Linked DNA regions of Homo sapiens: regions 2, 3 and 4 are each linked to region 1. The links come from fine-mapping of genetic effects on gene expression. A gene starts in region 1. Each other region holds a variant in brackets. All regions are shown on one strand. Distances are from middle to middle. Region 1 holds the start of A2M-AS1 (A2M antisense RNA 1). Region 2 holds the start of MIR1244-3 (microRNA 1244-3). Region 3 overlaps PZP (PZP alpha-2-macroglobulin like). Region 4 overlaps A2M (alpha-2-macroglobulin).

Region 1 (5,158 bases):
TATCTTTAAAGACTTGATGAATAAACACTTTTTCTGGTCAATGTCTTTCCCTGTTTCCTGTTCATTCAATAAATATCATTGTACATTTCCATATGATTCCCAATAGAATACCAAGATTAAACTTAAAGGAATCAAGTGCTGAAGGACTTCAGAATACAAAAAAATGATACAGTGATGTCGGTCTGAGTAGGCTTCATGTAAGGACTGTGGGGAAAGAAGAAAGTATTGGGTTATGTACTAGGAAAGTGTAAAGTGTGTTTGGTTATGGGAATACCCTATGAAAAACCCAAAGGGTGAATTTTTATGAGAAAATAAAAGACTGACTTCACCAGAAAAGACTTTTTACATTAAAATGAAGTAGAATGAAATACAACATTGAACATGTCATATTGAGAGGCAAGATAATTGGGACTTGACCTGAATTGGGAGTGATGTGTCCTATGTTACACCAAAATCTGCCACTGATGAGAGTGATCAGTCAGTTAACCTGGGGTTTCAGATTCAATAATAGATGAGCTGAAAATAATGAAGGGAGGATTCATGCAGAAGCACGTTTTCTCAGAAGAAGGAATGTGTATGACTCAAAGTCCAAATAGGAGTATTATATTGGATCATCTTTCTTCTGGAACTTTGAGCCAGGATTAAAGGATAGCTGTAAAGTCAAGGAGATATTCTGATGCAGAAATCAGTTCTCACAACATCTGATTGATGTCTGATGTCTCACAACATCTCTTTAGTCTATTTTTAAAATATATAATTTTCTTTGCAGTAAGTATTGCGACATATATTTCCATTCTATAGAAGGGGAAGCAAAACTTCAGGAGTTTTTGAAGTAGGAAAGGTTAAAGCAGGAGGATTGAGCCAAGAGAGTCTGAGGACAATCGTAGGAGTCCTACTCTTCATTTGGCACAAAAATGACAATGCTTAGTTAGGCAGAAGGTGAGTATGGATTGTATAAACTAAGAACTGGAAAAGACTTTGCAGTTCAAGGAATCCTTAGCTCTGTCTCCAGGCTAGACAAAATAAGAAATAAAAGCTATCACTTCTGTGTGGTGCTTATAGAATAGAATTAACATATCAGCATTATGGGATCTTTAGGGTGTCGCTTTCCTGGCCAGTCTAGTGGCACCTTTGCCTGAGTTTTGCTCTGGGCCCACTGGGCTGCTTCTGCCCACTCGCACTTGCTACCAACCTGGATCCCGGATCCAAGGGAGATTGAGACGGGTGGAGCAGAGGGGTGTGCTAGGGGTGTGTGAGCAAGCGTGGCCACTGTGCAGTCACACACACAAGCTGCTGCCCAGGTTGGGCAGCTCCAGGTGCCAGCACAGGCTCTCCATGAGGTGGCTGGACCAGGCACACAACAAACAGCTTCCCCCTGGACCAGGCGCATCACAAGCAGCTTCCAACAGTGGCACTGGCGAATGCAGTGACGCCAACCAGGGCCCCAAAGAGGGAGTCACAGCCCGGGCTCAAGGAGCTCCCAGGTCTGGGCTTCTCCGAGGGCCAGAGCTCTTCTCTCCCTGTGGGGAGCAAGGGGCATGTTGCAGCCCTGTTTGTGTTACAGCTCTTTTAACCTTGCTGTGCAGCTCCTCAGCTCCTGCATCAAGCAGACAAGTGGAGAATGAGACAGATGAAGAGGAGCATTACTGAGCAATGGAACAGAAGGATAAGGAAGATGAAGAGGAAGGAGACCTGCAGTTAGTAGCTCATTTCCACAGTAAGGATGTCCTTTCCACAGCAAGGGTGTCCCAACGAGTGTTCAGCTTCTAGCAGAACGGAGACCCTGGAGTGGCTGGCTCCTCTCTGCAAACAGGTCTTCCCATTGAGTGTTCAGCTTTCAGCAGAGAGGAGGTTCTGGAATGGGTAGTTTCTCTCCACAGGTAGGTCATCCATTGTCTTCCCATCCTCTCTTCCAATCTAGCTGAGTCTGGGGGATTTTATGAGCCTCAGAGGGAGGAAATGCATGCTGATTGGTCCATGGGCAGCCATGAGTGGGCCCAGGGAGCAGCACCACAAGTTACCTCTCTGGTCTGCAGGCTTCAAGCCCTCACCAGCTTGAGGGTGGGACTTCACTGGGGACCCATCCCCTTCCACCCAGGAACCTGTCTGCCTCCTGCTCCCAGGCTGTTCATGCCAAGGAGCGCCTGCAAGTCAGTGTCCAGCTGTCTTCAGACCCCTCTCAGCCTCCCTCCCACGCTTGTTGGTGCCCAAGTTCCAAAGGGGGCCGAGACGGCAGGGGGCTGGCGTATCAGCACTGTCCTGAGCGTGTGCACGCTCGGCCAGGCTGTGACAGTACCCAGGCTCGGCCCGACCTTGCTCTGAGTTCAGAGTGGGTGCTAACAGTGGAGAGAAGCCAGGCAGCCGGAGTAGGCACCCTGGAGCCTGCAGTGGGCAGGGGACTTTGCTGGGCCTCTGAGAGCACAGAAAATGTCCACAGCCGCGGCAAGGTGGCTGCAGCTGCACCCTGGGAGCTCCTGCTCCACCAGTTCGGAAGGGGCGGGGCTCCTGCTTGTCCCTGGCTCACCTGCTCCTGAGTGTGCAGGTCCGGTGGCGCCTCCTTGCAGGCTGGGCTGATGGGCGGGGGCGGGGGGGGGGGGGGGGAGGAAGGGAATGTTCCAGGTCCTCCCTGGGCCCGGGACTGTGTCCGGGGCAGGGATGACGTCGCTGCAAGTTCTTCCCGTGGCCCCGGGGCTCAGGGGCAGCCCAGGACTCTCCCTCGCCCGGCTCACGGCCCTGCCTGGGGGGCGCCTCCGGGAGCAGATCACGAGCCCTGGGGCTCAGCCCTCAGGCGCGTCTAGCTCGGCGGTCACCCCAGTGCCGGGAGGACCCTGAAGACGCGCCCCAGGCGGCCCTACTCAGAGCCTCCTCCCAAGGCCCAGGAATGCGGCGCTGTCGGAGGTGTGCGCGGTGGCCACACCGCTGTCCGGGTCCCCAAAGCGGGCCCCGCTCCCACTTCTCGCCTTGGCCCCGAACCCTGGGTCCAGCCCCAGCGCTTTGTGTGCGAACACCGCTCCGCCCCGGACCCAGCTCCGCCTTGGGGCCCCTCTCTGCCTGCCCCTCCGTGCCCGACTACACTGCTTCCCCTCCGGCGGGCGACTCAGCCCGGTCCATCGTGGCGGCTTCCAGGGCGGCAGGCTCCGGGAGTACTCCCGGGGCCGGCTCCAAGGACTGTTCCCCTCCTCCCCACTCCCACTCCGCGGCGGCGGCGGGCGAGAGCGGCGACATAGGGCCAGGGTCCGGAGCGGTGGAGGCTCCTGGCCGGGGAGCACGTCGCCCCACCCGGCAACGCGAGGATGGTGGCGGCGCAGTCGGCTGCTTTGGGGTCTCAAGGCACAGGGGACGCGAGGCACAGATGTCCCACAGCAGCCACTGCGGCTCCCGCAGCTGCTCCGCCGCCGCTGCCCGCCCCTCCCTGCTGCAGCTGGCGTGATGGCAGCGGCAGCTCTGGACGCCCCACTGCTGCCACCATCAGCCTTGTGAAATAGGTACTACCTTAACAAATGAAATTGAAGCAGAGACATGTAATTTGCCCAAAGTTACTAAGTTAGTGACAAAGCTAGAATTCAAGACCAAGAAGTCTAGCTTCCATGCTCTTAACTTCCAACCATGGTGACACCTCAAACAACTTCAGACAAAAAGGCCAGGAGAAAGTATATTTCAGAGCTTAATAAACATTATAATTAGCTGTCAAATTAAGTATCAAGCCAGGGCACAGAACATAAAAGAAATCAGAGTATGGCTATGGGAACAAGACAACAGGATTATAATTTTACCTCTTGGTTCTAGTTTTTTTCTTTGTTCATATGGAAATCGTTACTGAAAAGGTACTTTAAGGATATGCTTGTTGCAAATCATTAGCTGTATCACTGACCAAGAGTGTTTATTCCTGAAATACTAACTGATTGCCTACTATCTGCCAGGCACAATATCCCATGCTATAATACAAAATTAAACAAAATAGGATTCCTCCCTTAGAAAAACTCACCGCAGAGTAAAAGAAAAAGATACACATCTGGGTCATTATAATGATCAGGTGCTCAAGCTATTCATTGCCCCAGTGGACTGGAGATACAATGGCCTTCTCAAGTTTTGGGGTATTACACTCAAATTCATATGTAATACTGGAGAAAAGGCCTAATTACAACTTAAACTGGATTTCCCACCAGCCTGGTGGCATGGGAATCTTGGAATTAAAATTACGTAGAATTTTTAAAAGTGATGTATCTTCTACATCTGATTTTGTGAACTGAAGTTTATTCTTTCCAGGAAAGCATATAGATACACGACAGGAAATGAAATGGATACTTGTTGGGGTCAGTTTTATGTATAGTTTGTATTTTATTTTGAAATATGATACACTGCTATTCTCTTGCATTTTCTTATATGTGACTCACCACTAACCCTATATTCCCCCATTTCAGGCCAGTTGGTCATAAGCATCCATTTGCCTCAGAGAATACTGGGTTGTTATGACAAGAATATAAAGTTGGAAAGAAATAGAATATTTGAGTCTACCCTGTAAGAATAAAAAGAATAAAAGGGGTTTAAATTTATTTAGACCCTATTGTTTAATCAAGAATTCTGGCCAGGAGCAGTGGTTCATGCCTATAATCCCAATGCTTTAGGAGGCCAAGGCAGGAGGATCATTTGAGGCCAAGAGTTTGAGACCAGCCTGGGCAAATTATTGCTCGGGAAAAAAAGGTCTTATTTAGTATTTTAGTCTTTACAATGTTTTTTTCTATTATGCAATATTCTCTCAAATACTTTATGTCCATCCACGTTGTCTGAGACATGCCACTTTAACATTCTAGTTATGCTGTAGCTGTCATTTTACCCTAAGCCGTTAGTAGTACTGATCCACATAAAATTGGGCTGTTTAGGTGTTTAACTGTTTAAATGTATAATATATCTGATATATTTATATATTGTATAAAAAATCACCTAACACAATAGATATTTACTATGTCTGCTATAAATATATATCATATAACATATAACAATATATTATAAATGATAATATACTATAATATAAAATATAATAAATATATTATAAATGTACAATATATCCGATATAAATATATAAATATGTCAACTATATTATACATATAAATGTATATGTATAATATATACATATATGTATAATACAATGTATTTATTA
Region 2 (5,158 bases), 170 kb before region 1:
AATGGGCGGAAAACCGTGTCCTGGGTTGTGACTCCGAAGTCACTGGGTGAGTAGTAATGCTATTAGCAAATTCCACTTCGTGTGCTTGGATGATTTGTTTTCTGCACTGACCCCAATACACACTTTTTCTCCTCCTTTAATATTAATCAAGAGGAAGACAACCACTGGATACACTGGGGAAACTGGAAAAGAAGAAACTGTTCAATATAGAATCACCGTTTAACTCTTAAGAACTTTATTCCCCAGGAAAGGTGAATTTCACAGCCACTGCGGAAGCCATGCATTCTCAGGAAGTGTGTGACAATGAGTTGACTGACGTCCCACCACTTGCGCAGAAGGACACTGTAGTCAAGGCCTTACTAGTTGAGGTACGTAAGTCTACTCTCTGTGAGTCTCAGAGCCCTTATTATTTCATACAGTATTATCTAACATGCATCTCACAGTGACATTTAATTCCCAAGAATGTGGATAGATCTACAATCCAATTTTTCACCACCATTTTCTCCTTTGCTTTCAAGTGTTTAATTTTTCTTTTATACATTCAGTATCGCTTTACTTTTTTTTTTTTTTTTTGTCAATATAAAGCCTGAAGGAATAGCAAAGGAGGAAACTTTCAACACGCTGCCCTGTGCATCAGGTAAGTGTAATATATAGAGAAAAATTTCATGTTAAGTGACTTGCCAGAGTATGCAGTTGTGGAATGTCTTTTGGGGGCATGCTTTTCTCTGAGAGAGAGAGAGAAAAAAAAAACAACTCTTACCCTCCTCCAAATCTAAGGACATTTGATGAAAAACATTGTCCTGCCCCACTGGCTGCTCTGAAAAGCCGTCTTTGCATTGTGCGTCGTCAGCCTCCTTGCTCGCCGCAGCCGCCTCCGCCGCCGCGGACTCCGGCAGCTTTATCGCCAGAGTCCCTGAACTGTCGCTTTCTTTTTTATCCCCTGCATCGCGTCACCGGCGTGCCCCACCATGTCAGACGCAGCCGTAGACACCAGCTCCGAAATCACCACCGAGGACTTAAAGGAGAAGAAGGAAGTTGTGGAAGAGGCGGAAAATGGAAGAGACGCCCCTGCTCACGGGAATGCTAATGAGGAAAATGGGGAGCCGGAGGCTGACAACGAGGTAGATGAAGAAGAGGAAGAAGGTGGGGAGGAAGAAGGTGATGGTGAGGAAGAGGATGGAGATGAAGATGAGGGAGCTGAGTCAGCTACGGGCAAGCGGGCAGCTGAAGATGATGAGGATAACGATGTCGATACCCAGAAGCAGAAGACCGACGAGGATGACCAGACGGCAAAAAAGGAAAAGTTAAACTAAAAAAAAAAGGCCGCCGTGACCTATTCACCCTCCACTTCCCGTCTCAGAATCTAAACGTGGTCACCTTCGAGTAGAGGGGCCCGCCCGCCCACCGTGGGCAGTGCCACCCGCAGATGACACGCGCTCTCCACCACCCAACCCAAACCATGAGAATTTGCAACAGGGGAGGGAAAAAGAACCAAAACTTCCAAGGCCCTGCTTTTTTTTTTTCTTAAAAGTAGTTTAAAAAGGAAACTTGTATTTTTTATTTACATTTTATATTTTTGTACATATTGTTAGGGTCGGCCATTTTTAATGATCTCGGATGACCAAACCAGCCTTCGGAGCGTTCTCTGTCCTACTTCTCACTTTACTTGTGGTGTGGCCATGTTCATTATAATCTCAAAGGAGAAAAAAAAAACTTGTAAAAAATGCAAAAATGACAACAGAAAAACCATCTTATTCCGAGCATTCCAGTAACTTTTTTGTGTATGTACTTAGCTGTACTATAAGTAGTTGGTTTGTATGAGATGGTTAAAAAGGCCAAAGATAAAAGGTTTCTTTTTTTTCCTTTTTTGTCTATGAAGTTGCTGTTTATTTTTATTTTTTGGCCTGTTTGATGTATGTGTGAAACAATGTTGTCCAACAATAAACAGGAATTTTATTTTGCTGAGTTGTTCTAGCAAAAAAAAAAAGAAAAAAAAAAGAAAAACATTGTTCTGATGAAAATCACTTGGAATGAGCCTCTTAGGGAAATAAATAGAAAGTACTTTTTAGGATAAATTATTATTATTGTATTTTAAGAATAAAGAAATGGGCATAGAGAAATAAAAGACTTGCTTAAAAGCTTAAAAGCTCTTGCCTAATAATAAGGTCTAAGGCTGTTGACCTCAGGACAGGATTCTTTCTGATACCTCTGTGTTTCTCAAATGTCTTCCTAAACCATGTTCAAAATATTGAAATATCTGTGTGACACTAGTATGATTTACTGTTCAATTGACAGTTTAAATGCACTCATGTTTTTACTTAAACAAGTTATTTTAAGAGGAACTCCAGGTTACTAACTTGTATAGAAAACCAGTATTTTACCAATATCATTAATATAGCAATACAAAAATTACCACTATATTGAAAGAGAAGGGGAAAAGCTAACACTTTTTTAAGTTTATTTAAATTATCATTAAAAACCCAA[C/A]TCTGTGCCACCTATAATCATCTTGACGATAATGCTCAGTCTGCAGATCTCTCTTCTCTATACGAGGATCCCTTGATAAAATCATCTAGTCAATGGCTTTAATAACAACTATGTACTTGTGTCCAAAACTGTACAACTTTGATCCACACCTTTTTCCTGAACTCAAACTCATGTATTCAACTGCCCACTCTCCACTTACAGGCTTGTAGGTCTCATAGGCATATCAAAATCAGCAAGTTTAAGACTGAGTATCTGCTCGTCCTCACAAACCTGCTCCTCCCTCAATTTCCTTCATCTCAGATGATGAAAAATCCATTCTTCTATTTGCTAGGGAGAAACACTTTGGAGTTCTTTACTACATTCTTTCCCCTATCTTCCCTACCCAATCCATGCACAAATCTAGTCGATTCCACCTTCAAATTGCATCCAGAATCTACCCACTTCTCTCCATCTCTACTATTCTAGTCCTTTCTCTTGCAGGCTCTCAATAGCTTTCTAACTGGTCTCCTGATCATCTCTTCTTGTTCCCCTTCAGCGAGAGGGATCCTTTAAAACATGTGTCAGATCGTGTCCCTCCTCTTCTCTAACCCTTTCAGGAATCTCCCATATCCCCCCTAAGTTAAAGCGTAAGTTTTTAATGCCACTTAGAAACCCTTGCTACCCCATGACTTCACGTCTTCCTAATCTCTCCTTCGCTTAACCCGTTCCGGCCACACTGACCTCTTTCTTCCTATTGGAATACACCCAGCATGCTTCAGTCTCTGGAGTCCTTTTACTTTTTGTTCCTTTTTCCTGGAAGTATCTTCCCCCAGGTTTGGATAAATCTGGCTCCTTGACTTACTTAAAGTCTCTGCTCACACAGGACTTTTTATCAATGAGCTTTTCCATAGGGAGCCCCCTCCCCACTTCCTGACCTGCCTTGTTTTACTAGCTCACCATAGAAACACTTGCCCTGCTTTAATTTTCTCTATAGCACTTATCAACATCTAGTATACTAAATATACTCTTGCTTTTTTATCGTAGTCTTCCCCTAAAAATGAAATCTCCAGGAGGCCAGGAAATTTGTTTTGAAACTTTCGGTATCATTGCACTTAGAACCTGGTACATAGTATACACTGAATACAAATGAATGGAATGAATGTAATTCTTGAAAAGCACTAACAGTAGCAGGAATTAATATAAACCATGAAGAGAAGGAAATAAGCATACCATAAGTATATGCCCATAGGAAAAGCCATAGAAATTTAGCACAAATGTATATGATGAATATGAATTTCACTGAGAGATGAATCATGGCTTTAAGGGAAACTTGGATTGTATCAAAGAAATTATGTAATAACTGAGCCAGGCATGGTGACTCACACCTGTAATCTCAGCAGTTGGGGAGATGGAGGCAGGCAAATCGCTTGAGATCAGAAGTTCAAGACCAGCCTGGCCAACTCTGTCTCTATAAAAAATACAGAAATTAGCCAGGTGTGGTGGTGCATGCCTGTAATCCCAGATACTTAGGTGGCTGAGGCACAAGAATCATTTGAACCTGGGAAGCAGAGGTTGCAGTGAGATCACGCCACTGTTCTTCAGCCTGGGTGACAGAGGGAGACTCTATCACAAAAAAAAAAAAAAAAAAAAAGTTATATAATGACGAAGGAAAATAAAAGGTTGGATCTAGATGATGTAGAGAAACATGATTCATAACAAAAATAGAACATTTCTCTCACTTTCCCCTCCTTTATATGTGTGTTTTTCTTCTTTCATTAGATACTGGAGTACCTGAAAAGGTGTCACTGAATGTTCCTTCAAATGTGGTTGAAGGATCTCCAAGGGCAACATATTCAGTTTTAGGTGATTCTTTCAGCCCAAGGGAAGCAGCTGTCTGGCTGTATAATTCTAGTGCATGGGCCTCACCATCCACGATTAATGAAGTTTCTGACAACAGGCAATGGATTGAGAGAAAGCACTAAGGGTTACACTATGTTACAGTTGGAAAGGGGCTTGAATAGATGTTGTGCTACATATTATGCCTTGATATATTCTAAAAAGAAAGGGTCACCTCTCAGTGCCCTCATCTTCAAGCAATTTACTAGGTGGTAATGCTTCCTAGTCAGTTTGAAAATGGTTGTGGTTGAGTTTTACCAGACATGTGGCCCATGAGAAAAGATAGATCACCTACCATTCAGTTTCTTCCCCCCTTTCTCCATCCTTAAACCGTCTATTTTCTCACCTTTTGTTTTCCTCCCTATTTCTTGTTTTTTCACCTTTTTTAGTCTTCTTGTCCTTTTCTCTATAGGTTATTTGGCCTCTCAGTTAGCTAATAATCTATTTTCCTAGCCTAATACAAACCATATCTGATTTCTTTACAACTTTTATTCCACAGGTGATATACTAGGCTCTGTAGTGCAAAACCTTCAGAACCTTCTTCAGATGCCCTATGGTTGTGGAGAGCAGAATATGGTCCTTTTTGTCCCTAACATTTATGTTCTAAACTATCTAAATGAGACACGACAGCTGACAGAGAAGATCAAGGCCAAAGCCACTAGCTACCTCATCAGTGGTGAGAGATTACCTCAAAAAGAAGAGCCATAATCTCTTAAATATTTTTTGGTGAACGAAAATCAACATCTGTTTCATTAAGATTCGATAGTCATTGTCGTGATTTTCAATAAAATGTCCCAAT
Region 3 (5,158 bases), 92 kb before region 1:
ATGGATGGCCTGCCTTTCTTTAATGCTTCATGAACAATCTGAAGCCTTCCATTTCAGGTTACCAGAGACAGCTGAACTACAAACACCAAGATGGCTCCTACAGCACCTTTGGGGAACGATATGGCAGGAACCAGGGCAACACTTGGTAAGAAAGAAAATCTATTCTGAGTTTCAACTATGAGTTCAGAACGTGCACATAGATTACCTGTCTTAGTCCATTTTCTGTTGCTTATAACAGAATACCTGAAACTAGGTAATTTATAAAGAAAAGAAATTTATTTCTTATAGCTATGAAGGCTGATAAGTCAAAAGTCTAGGGGCCGCATCTAGTTGAGAGTCTTCTTGCTGGTGTGGACTCTGAGGAGTCCCACGGTGATGCAGGGCATCATATGACTAGAGGATTGAATGGGCTCACTTGGGTCTCTCCTTCTCTTCTTTTCTTTTCTTTGTTTTACTTTGTAGAGACTGGGCTAGCATCTCCTCCTCTTCTTATGAAGCCACCAGTCCAACTGTCATGATAGCCCTTTAATCTAGGAATAGATTCATCCATTCATGAGAGCAGAACCCTCATGAGCCAATCACCTCTTAAAGGCTCCACCTCTCAATACTACCACATTGGGGATTAAGTTTTAACATGAGTTTTGGTGGAGAAACAATTTCTAAACCATAATGTTACCTTATTTAATTCTTATAGCTACCCTGGGAAGTGAGAGTTATTAGCTTCATTTTACAGAGGAGAAAACATATTCAGTGTGGATAAATAAATGTGTCAGGAGCAAACATCTAATAAGTGGCAAAATTGAGAACACTTTTAGGTTGATTTTTTTAATCCAATATACCCAGACCCTCTTCCTTCTCATGTTGCTAAGGGAACATTATAGGTTTGTAACTTGCCCCCTTAAATTGTTGCTCAGCCCTAAGAGGTGTTAGAAAAATGCTAGAATAAAACCACAACCATTACTGGCAGAGCATACCTTACTACCTTCTACTAGATGATATCCTTTCTCTCTCTCTCTTTGTAGTTTTACCACACAGGCAAACACAGGGGAAAAAAGTGGAAGGGCAGGATGATGGAGGGAAATATTTACTGAAGCAGAACATTAGAAGTTAGCTGATTAGAGTTAAAACTACAGAAAGTAAGCTAAGAAATCTAGGAAAGGAAATAAATTCATAGAGCCCACAGTGTAAAAGCAAATGACTTAGTTAACCAACCAAGAAAACTGGAAGGAACCTGAACCTCTGAAGTGGCATAGAAATGCTTTAGGAAGCAAGGACAAGCTGGTAATGAATTGAACAACATGTGGCAGCAAAAAAAAAAAAAAAAAGAAAAGAAAAGAAAAAAGAAAAAGAGATGTCTAAGCTAAAAAGAAAAAGTCTCCAAACTCTCAGTAACAGCTGATTGACTTTCTTGGGTGCACACTGTGATGGGGGAGCCTGTGTGTACAAAACAGAGCAGTAAAGTGCTCAATGAAAAGAGCCTCAGCACTGCATTTTTCCTCCCCCTAGGCTCACAGCTTTTGTACTGAAGACTTTCGCCCAGGCTCGATCCTACATCTTCATTGATGAAGCACACATTACCCAATCTCTCACGTGGCTCTCCCAGATGCAGAAGGACAATGGCTGTTTCAGGAGCTCTGGGTCACTGCTCAACAATGCCATAAAGGTGAACTGTTCCACAAACTTCTGAGCCTGACACACATCAACATAACATCCCCCAGGGGTGAAGGGAGGAAGGAGGCACAAGGAAATTGCAAAGATGAAGTCCTGGATGATGTGGGATGGCATCAGGGAAAGAGTATTACACTTTCTACAGAGAAGGAAGAAATTGGGCCAGATGCAGTGGATCACACGTAGAATCACAGCACTTTGGGAGGCCAAGGCAGGTGGATCACTTGAGCCCAGGAGTATAAGACTAGCCTGGGCAACATAGCAAGACCCAGTCTCTACAAAAAACATTTTACAAAATTAGCCAGGCATGGTGGCCTGTGCCTGTAGTTGCAGCTACTTGACAAGCTGAGGCAGCAAAATTGCTTGAGCCTAGGAGCTTGAGGCTGTCATGTGTGATAGTGCTACTGCACTCCAGCCTGAGCTACAGAGCAAGA[A/C]CCTGTCGAGAGAGAGAGAGAGAAGGAAATGGTATACTTTGAATGGAAACAGATACTGAGGAGCGTTTCCATCAAACAACAGAAGAGAATATACTAACACTTGGCACTGGAATTAATCAAATCAATGTTGTATTCACAGGGAGGTGTAGAAGATGAAGCGACCCTCTCCGCCTATGTTACTATTGCCCTTCTGGAAATTCCTCTCCCAGTCACTGTAGGTACCAGCTCAATCCCATTCCCTACCATGAAAACTGTAGATTTGCTGTCTGGAATGCCACCCTGCTAAGGGTTGAGTCTCAAGTATCTTTTGGTTCAATGATGAGGGATTTCTCAGACTGATAAGCTCTTTGGTTGATGCATTAAGAGAGATTTACACTTGCCCAGTAATGCCCATAGACTATGTATCAAAACCAATCCTAAAAACAGGTTCTCTAGTCTTATTCTTTAAGACTGAACTATAAAGGGAAGAGATCGAAATATTTTTCTATTTAAATATGATGAATATCTAGCTGTCTGCCTATCTGTCTGAAATCTATTAATAACATCTGACTGTCAATATCCAGCTCTCAGCTTGCTCTGCCCTCTATTCACCCTAGTTTGACACAACCACATTTTGCCTTTACAGAACCCTATTGTTCGCAATGCCCTGTTCTGCCTGGAGTCAGCCTGGAATGTAGCAAAGGAGGGGACCCATGGGAGCCATGTCTACACCAAGGCATTGCTGGCCTATGCTTTTTCCCTACTGGGAAAGCAAAATCAGAATAGAGAAATACTGAACTCACTTGATAAGGAAGCTGTGAAAGAAGGTGAGAGCACTTATAAGTGGGAGCTGAACAATGAGAACACATAGACACAGGGAGGGGAACAGCACACATTGGGGCCTGTCTGGGAGGTGCGGAGAGGGAGAGCATCAGGATAGATAGCTAATGCATGGGGGACCTAATAACCAGGTGATGGGCTGATACATGCAGCAAACCACCATGGCACACCTATGTAACAAACCTGCACATCCTGCACATGTACCCCAGAACTTAAAATAAAATAACATTTAAAAAATAAATAAATAAATAGATAAATAATAAAAGTTTTTTTAAAAACTGTGCAAAAAAAGGTGAGAGCAAACAGCAAATGGTACCAAATTTCCATTTCCATTTACACTGATTCTACAAAAAGAAGAAATATATTCCTTCTGAAATCCACAAGCTTCATCTGTAATTCCTTAGCCAAGTCATACATTGTGAGATCAGAGCACCTCTTATAAAACTGTCTTCTCTGGGATTGCATATGTTACACAGAGCAGAACATAATAGACATAATGCTGCAGATAAATAATGCAGTTTTATTTCTACTTGCTAAAACCAATATAATAGACAAATAGATTCATTTTCTCATGATTTCTCTCTACTTACTTGAATGAAAAGAGGTACAACAGCTCTTCCATACCCCCTAAATTCCCACCCAATGCCGTCCTGGCTGCACCATGCTCACTTCATGCTCTGGGCTTCTCCTAAGCTAGTGCTGCTATAGTCTCCTTTCAGCTACCATCATAATTATCTACCAGGATCTCATCAGCCACGCTGAGATGTTCTCTGACATTTACAAGATCCAGAGATGGAGGAAGGACTGTGCCTGGAGGTGGAGGGGAAGATGGTCAGTAGGACAAAGGGTGACATTGATGACTCGCTTATTGGTGGAGATGCCTTCACTGAAGTTTCCCAAAGCGAAGGTACTGGAAGCAGAGTAATCATTGGTGTTGATATTGTCATGAACAATCACTTGCAGGAACTGACTTCACAAAAGAAGCCTACAAGAAGTACATCAAAGCTGACATAAAATCAAAGACAAACTTAAAGAACAGAGACCAGAAACAGTAAAACCTTTTATAACAGGAGCTGCAGAACAAATCAAGCACACTCTTTCTAATCTCAGAAACTACCAGTTCTTCATTTGATCTTAGCCAAAAGGTCAAGAAGCAATAAAAACTACCAGTTCTTTATTGGTGAAAACATGAACCCATATGGCATGCTGCCTCTGCTGGACTACCATGAGGATGGTGTGACTCCATAGATGATTTTCCATGGTTTAGAAATGGAAAAATGTTAACAAATTTGGCAGTTACTTTGGATGTATCACCTGTCATAACTGGCTTCTGCTTGTCATCCATACAACACCAGGACTTAGACAAGTAGAACTGATGTCATCTTGAGATCTTCATTTATTTTGACCATGATTTATTTGGAGCAGAGGCATTGTTTTTAAGGAAAAAATGTCATAGAGGTTGTCTAAAAACAAAATGCATTCAAACTCATTTGAAAGAGTGTCATTTAGTTTAGTACATATTTAAACTCAATCTATCTTGTAGTGTTCTTGGAGAAACTAGAGTCTGGTTGTAGACCACTACTAGAAAGAACACAACTGCCATGAGATAACTTCTACAGTGGAAACTATTTCTGAGTATGGAGTACAAAAACAACAACAACAACAACAATAACAACAACAAAAAACAAAACAAGAATCAAAAGTTTTAATTCTGAGTTGAATTAGCAGGAAAGAACATGCTTATAGCAGTGCCAACATTTGAAGTGGTGCCTTATACATTTCATCACCTACAATGGAAGTAGTTAACTCTGGAAGAGGTTACAAAACAACAAAAACGGACTGATTCAGTTGGAGAGAAAAAAAAAGAAAGAAAAGAGGTACAACAAACAGAAAATGCAATAACATTTTCAAACTATTTTTATCTCTATTTGCCAGAGAGAGCATCACAAAAGTCACATGAGGTCAATAGTTAAGTTTTATATTCTAGTCTATACTGCAATTCTCAGAAAATATCACGAACAATAAAAGAACTCTCTCTACCACTTTTCTCTTTCATCAGTCCAACTAAAATAACATTGGAGAGATTGGTGAGTATGCTCTATGCTTCTTCCTCCATCAACCTACCCTACCTTCGTACCACAGGACTAAATCAAGTTCAGCATAGAAGTGTGAGTTAGTGAGTTTTAGGAGTTTATGACATAGAAGACCTTGCTTCTCCTGTATTATTTTCAGCTCCA
Region 4 (5,123 bases), 33 kb before region 1:
ATGCCTTTGCATCCTCATAACTTAGCTCCCACTTCCTAATAGCTTAGCTGCCACTTCCTAATAGCTTAGCTCCTACTTCTGAGTGAGAAGATATGATGTTTGGTTTTCCATTCCTGAGCTGGGAATATCAGGAATACTTTCAAGTAACGAGAGACCATTTCCATCTAATATTAATTAAAAGAAAGTTGAGGGAGGGAAAACAATAATGGTTTTTTTCTCACCCTTTATCAAATATGTGTTGTCTTTTTTTTCAGCCTATTTTCTTTGCGTTATTTAAAATATTGGTGTGGGCCAGCTATGATGGCTTACGCCTGTAATCCCAGTACTTTGGGAGAACGGGATGGGAGGATCTCTTGAGGTCAGGAGTTTGAGACCAGCCTGGTCAACATAGTGAGACCCCATCTCTATAAAAGTAAATAAATAAATAAATAAATAAATAAGAACAAAGGGGGAAAAATAAAATACATAAAATATTGTTGTGTATAATCTATGCTTATTCCAGATTTTTAAACCATAAATATTCTTGAACCTCTTCTCAAAATGAGAATTGTGTTAGAGAATGGGGTGGAGAAAATGTACGATTTCAAGGTATGTTGTATATACCAGGTCTTGTGCTGAGTCATTTATGTCATTTATATTATTATAAATATCTTTTTTCCCTTTCAAGATAGTTATGATTTATGAAGCATTAAATTGGGTACTTCTACCGACTGAAGCGGACTCTTGCCATGAGCAAATATGTCATAATATAAACCTTTGAAGGTTGCTCCTAGTCTAGTAGACTCTAAAAGATAACTTGCTAGAAAAGTATCAGTAATCTACTCTCTCATTAGTTCTTGTAGCAACACAGAAGCACCATAGCAGACTGAAGGAAACTTAATGCAACCTCTAAAGAATCTACATAGGCATCAAAAAATAACTTCTGAAGGAGCATGGTGTTCCTCTTATGGAGAAAGAACCAAATATTGGCTCATAGAAGGTTAAAGAGCATGTAGCATGAATACAATGTGTTGAACTCTTACTCTTACATCTCATAACTTCAGGTTCTATTTCCCTCTTCTAGTATGAGGCCTAGATCAAATGGTAGTGAATTGGATGTCTTCATACCCTTAACTAGCATCAGAACATTAGGTGGGTGAGCTGAAGCTTAAAGCTGGTGAAAAATCAACAGAGTATATGATTTATGAGAGGAGAGAGGGCTTTGATAGGGTTTTTTTCTAAAGCTAGAGTCCTTAGAGGTAATCATCCATTTGTTACATCTACTGTTTATTATGTCTGTTACATCTACTAATGGAAATAGTCATTAACCTATGATGGCTTCCTCTCATTCTCTTTGTGCCCCAGTGAAGGGCCATTTTTCCATCTCAATCCCTGTGAAGTCAGACATTGCTCCTGTCGCTCGGTTGCTCATCTATGCTGTTTTACCTACCGGGGACGTGATTGGGGATTCTGCAAAATATGATGTTGAAAATTGTCTGGCCAACAAGGTGTGTGTTTTAGATCATAAAATCTTCAACATGTAAAACTAGAAGTTACTATTGTTATCATTTGTTTTACACATGTGAACATTAGGGCCAAAAGGGTTAAACAAATTCCCCAGAGACATTCAGCAAGGTAGTGGCAGAGTCACACTAAGAAGCAGAATCACTTGATTCCTTATACAAAACTCTCAAACTTCTCCTAGCAGTGCCTCTTACCAATTACACAGTTCAGAGTATGTTATTCCCTTCTTCTATGATGAAACGTTGGGAAATATGTAAGCAAGTTTTTAAGACTACTAAGGAGCCAAAAGAAAAATGCAAGAGCACCTAGACCCATGCATGTCCCACCACAATTAATGAGCACCTTGCCGTGTATCAAAGATAAAAATGGCATTTCATGACTAGTAATTTATAAGAATAATTAGAAATAATTCTACTGGCTCAAGTGATTCTTGAGAATGAAAGAGAAGTGTAGGGAACAAAAAGCTTCAGGATTGACACAATGCCAACCCTCCACGAAGTCAAGCAGAGTGGTTATACATTGTACATGAGGAACACTCTGCAAATGCGAGTGAATGCATGGGTAAACCTGGAAATTTGCTTTTCTGACCTTTTGTTCCAATTTCACAGGTGGATTTGAGCTTCAGCCCATCACAAAGTCTCCCAGCCTCACACGCCCACCTGCGAGTCACAGCGGCTCCTCAGTCCGTCTGCGCCCTCCGTGCTGTGGACCAAAGCGTGCTGCTCATGAAGCCTGATGCTGAGCTCTCGGCGTCCTCGGTGAGTTCCTGGCAGCCTCAGGAATCAAGAAGGGCCGTGCCAGGGGCTCAGAGCAAGGAAAAATGACTGGATAAGTAGGATAAGATCAATTAAAATTATATTTATCTAGGAATTAATTGCTTTGAGCTCTCTTGTGGGCTTTCATTGGTAAGGAATT[A/T]TATATATATATATATATAACTACTCACTTCTGCAGTTAAAAAAATAAACAAAATACAATATATTGAATCAAATAAAAGAATTTTTAAAAGGACAAAATGTGATGAAAATTAACAACCAAAAAAGGACTCGTTATTCAGACACGTTAAGCTTCTTGCTCAAGAGCACATAGCAATACAAATTCAAATCTTCTGATTGTGTCAGGACATCCGTATATGCAAGGCTGGAGAGAATACAGAGCAGATTGTGAAAAGTGCTATATGAGAAGTGCAGTTATGCAAAATAAAAGAAAGGATTAACTGAGCAACCGGGGAAGCCGTTCGAAAATTATATATTTAAAATGTAAAAAGACCATACAGTACCCAAAGTCCTTAAAATCCCAGAGCTCCATGCAACCAGTAATAGGAGTTGTCAAACTAGTTTCAACATTTCAAAAAGCCTAACAAAAGTGATACATATACCTGCACTGAGGCTATACAGGCTAAATGAAATATCAGATTTCCGTTTTTATAAGAATTATGGCTGGGCCTGGTGGCTCACGCCTGTAATCCCAACACTGGGAGGCCAAGGCAGGCAGATAACTTGAGATCAGGAGTTTGAGACCAGTCTGGCCAATATAATGAAACCCCGTATCTACTAAAAATACAAAAATTAGTCAGACGTGGTGGCGGGCGCCTGTCATCCCAGCTACTCAGGAGGCTGAGGCAGGAGAATCACTTGAACCCAGGAGGCAGAGGTTGAGTGAGCCGAGATCGTGCCACTGCACTCCAGCCTGGGCAATAGAGCAAGACTTGGTGTCAAAAAAAAAAAAAAAAAAAGAATTACATCAGTTGAAATAATTGCTGTCCCAAGCTACACATAATTTCTGAGGGAACATATGTATTATCTCTGAGGAACAAAACTTAGGGAAATTGAACTACTATATAATTGACATTGATAACTGAACTCTTTGAAAATATGGAGCTAATAGAAGAAATACCAAAAGGATATGCTGAATTGGAACAACAAAAACTAGTTAATAGCATGTACTAATAGTAGTTTGCTCACATCTTCAAATTTTTAATATGAGACCAATTGTAATAACCTCTTACTGAAGCTTTTTCTACTACCATAATTTAACAAAGAGAAATTTATATTTTTATTTTCCTGAAATAGAAACTTATAAAAAAATGTTTCTTACTTGTTTGTCCTTCTAATGGGATTTTAACTGAAAATATTAGAATACTTCTAAAGGAAGCATCAAGTACATTTCAACAGTAGGATCTCAAGAGGATATGTGGGAAAATAATATACATGTTTTATACTTTTATAATATAATTTTATAATTCTCAAAGAATTTTTCAAATTATAACAACCCTGATGGGTAGATAAGGCAGACAGTCCTATTTATTAATAATAAAGCAGAAGCTTTCAGGGATTTAGTAGTAGACCTGAGTTAAAACACCAACTCTTCTCAAGCTTTGATTAGTGTCTTACCAATGAAACACTTTGCTGCTACTAGTGTAGGTCATTCATTCAACACATTTATTTAATGCCCACTGTGTTCTAGGTATTATACTAAGTGCTAGTAGAGATCAAGCAGTGAGCTACTGGAAAGATAAAAATGTATGTCTCATGGAACTTACATTGTCTGTCCCATAGATGAGACAGACAATAATTATGCAATATGCCACAATAAAAGCAGGGAGAGGAAATGAGAAATGTTAAGATACTTTGAGAAAGTGTCTAATTTCATCACACCACTCACTTTGCTCATCTGTTCTTGTCAATCAGTTTTAAACTCCTACGAATATAATGCAATGTAACTATCACAATTTTTATGTCTGTCTTACTTCTCACCTTCAAATGGACTTGAAAGCATCATGCCTAGAATTTTACGGTTAAAGTTGTATGTATTATATGAAGATCTGGAGCATTTTGTTTCCACTAATAATACCTAAGAAAATGCCATCGTGTCCTGTGGAGAGAGGATATTCCTATTCGTGTGCCTGTTTAGAACATGCACCCATTAACTTTGCTATATACTGAGTCAGTTGCTCACCACAAGATAAGCACAAAACTATCATTTCCTTCTATCATCTCAAAGCTTTGTGCAATGTCACAAATACAGCAGACCTCGATTTTTCAATTAATAAAGTTTTATTTCATTCCAGTGTTGAGTCTAGTGGTGGCCTCTGAACTGTGTAACGAAGTAGTACTTAGTACTTAGATGAGTACTTAGATGGAGTGTTTGGTTTTTCCTAAAATTGTTAAACATCTTCAAAATGAAAACACTGTGTCAAGAAAATGATCCATACCCTCTATAAATCATCAAAGCAATGAGAGCGCTCAAAGAAAGACGGATGTTCATTATTCCTGTTCTTTTCTCCTTGAACTTAAAAAATGTCACAAAGGCCGGGCGCGGTGGCTCACGCCTGTAATCCCAGCACTTTGGGAGGCCGAGGCGGGTGGATCATGAGGTCAGGAGATCGAGACCATCCTGGCTAACAAGGTGAAACCCCGTCTCTACTAAAAATACAAAAAATTAGCCGGGCGCGGTGGCGGGCGCCTGTAGTCCCAGCTACTCGGGAGGCTGAGGCAGGAGAATGGCGTGAACCCGGGAAGCGGAGCTTGCAGTGAGCCGAGATTGCGCCACTGCAGTCCGCGGTCCGGCCTGGGCGACAGAGCGAGACTCCGTCTCAAAAAAAAAAAAAAAAAAAAAAAAAA

The links.
Region 2: its variant is fine-mapped to the expression of A2M-AS1 in whole blood (TOPMed, PIP 0.99).
Region 3: its variant is fine-mapped to the expression of A2M-AS1 in lung (TOPMed, PIP above 0.99).
Region 4: its variant is fine-mapped to the expression of A2M-AS1 in prefrontal cortex (ROSMAP, PIP 0.95).

Annotation. Positions count from the first base shown.
Region 1 is chr12:9,062,595-9,067,752 of GRCh38, reverse strand. A2M-AS1 (A2M antisense RNA 1) reads right to left here and starts at 2,576. Exons shown (of 2, transcript NR_137425.1): 1 at 2,525-2,576; 2 at 1-1,927. LINC00612 (long intergenic non-protein coding RNA 612) reads left to right here and starts at 2,683. Exons shown (of 3, transcript NR_034140.1): 1 at 2,683-3,485. It overlaps A2M (alpha-2-macroglobulin), which reads left to right. Exons shown (of 36, transcript NM_000014.6): 36 at 1-45. It also overlaps a transcript of KLRG1 not described here. RefSeq lists silencers at 3,188-3,237, 3,298-3,347.
Region 2 is chr12:9,236,142-9,241,299 of GRCh38, reverse strand. MIR1244-3 (microRNA 1244-3) reads left to right here and starts at 1,749; the gene lies at 1,749-1,833. It overlaps LINC00987 (long intergenic non-protein coding RNA 987), which reads right to left and starts at 1,227. Exons shown (of 7, transcript NR_137434.2): 1 at 761-1,227; 2 at 1-182. It also overlaps the pseudogene A2MP1 and the pseudogene PTMAP4. RefSeq lists an enhancer at 1-893. The variant C/A (reference allele first, on the strand shown) is at 2,485.
Region 3 is chr12:9,154,925-9,160,082 of GRCh38, reverse strand. PZP (PZP alpha-2-macroglobulin like) reads left to right here. Exons shown (of 36, transcript NM_002864.3): 25 at 58-145; 26 at 1,507-1,663; 27 at 2,242-2,316; 28 at 2,728-2,908. It also overlaps a transcript of KLRG1 not described here and the pseudogene TPT1P12. Among named protein-coding and RNA genes, the nearest start is that of A2M, 42 kb to the right of the region's middle. The variant A/C (reference allele first, on the strand shown) is at 2,103.
Region 4 is chr12:9,095,745-9,100,867 of GRCh38, reverse strand. A2M (alpha-2-macroglobulin) reads left to right here. Exons shown (of 36, transcript NM_000014.6): 14 at 1,345-1,487; 15 at 2,112-2,261. It also overlaps a transcript of KLRG1 not described here. Among named protein-coding and RNA genes, the nearest start is that of A2M, 18 kb to the left of the region's middle. The variant A/T (reference allele first, on the strand shown) is at 2,419.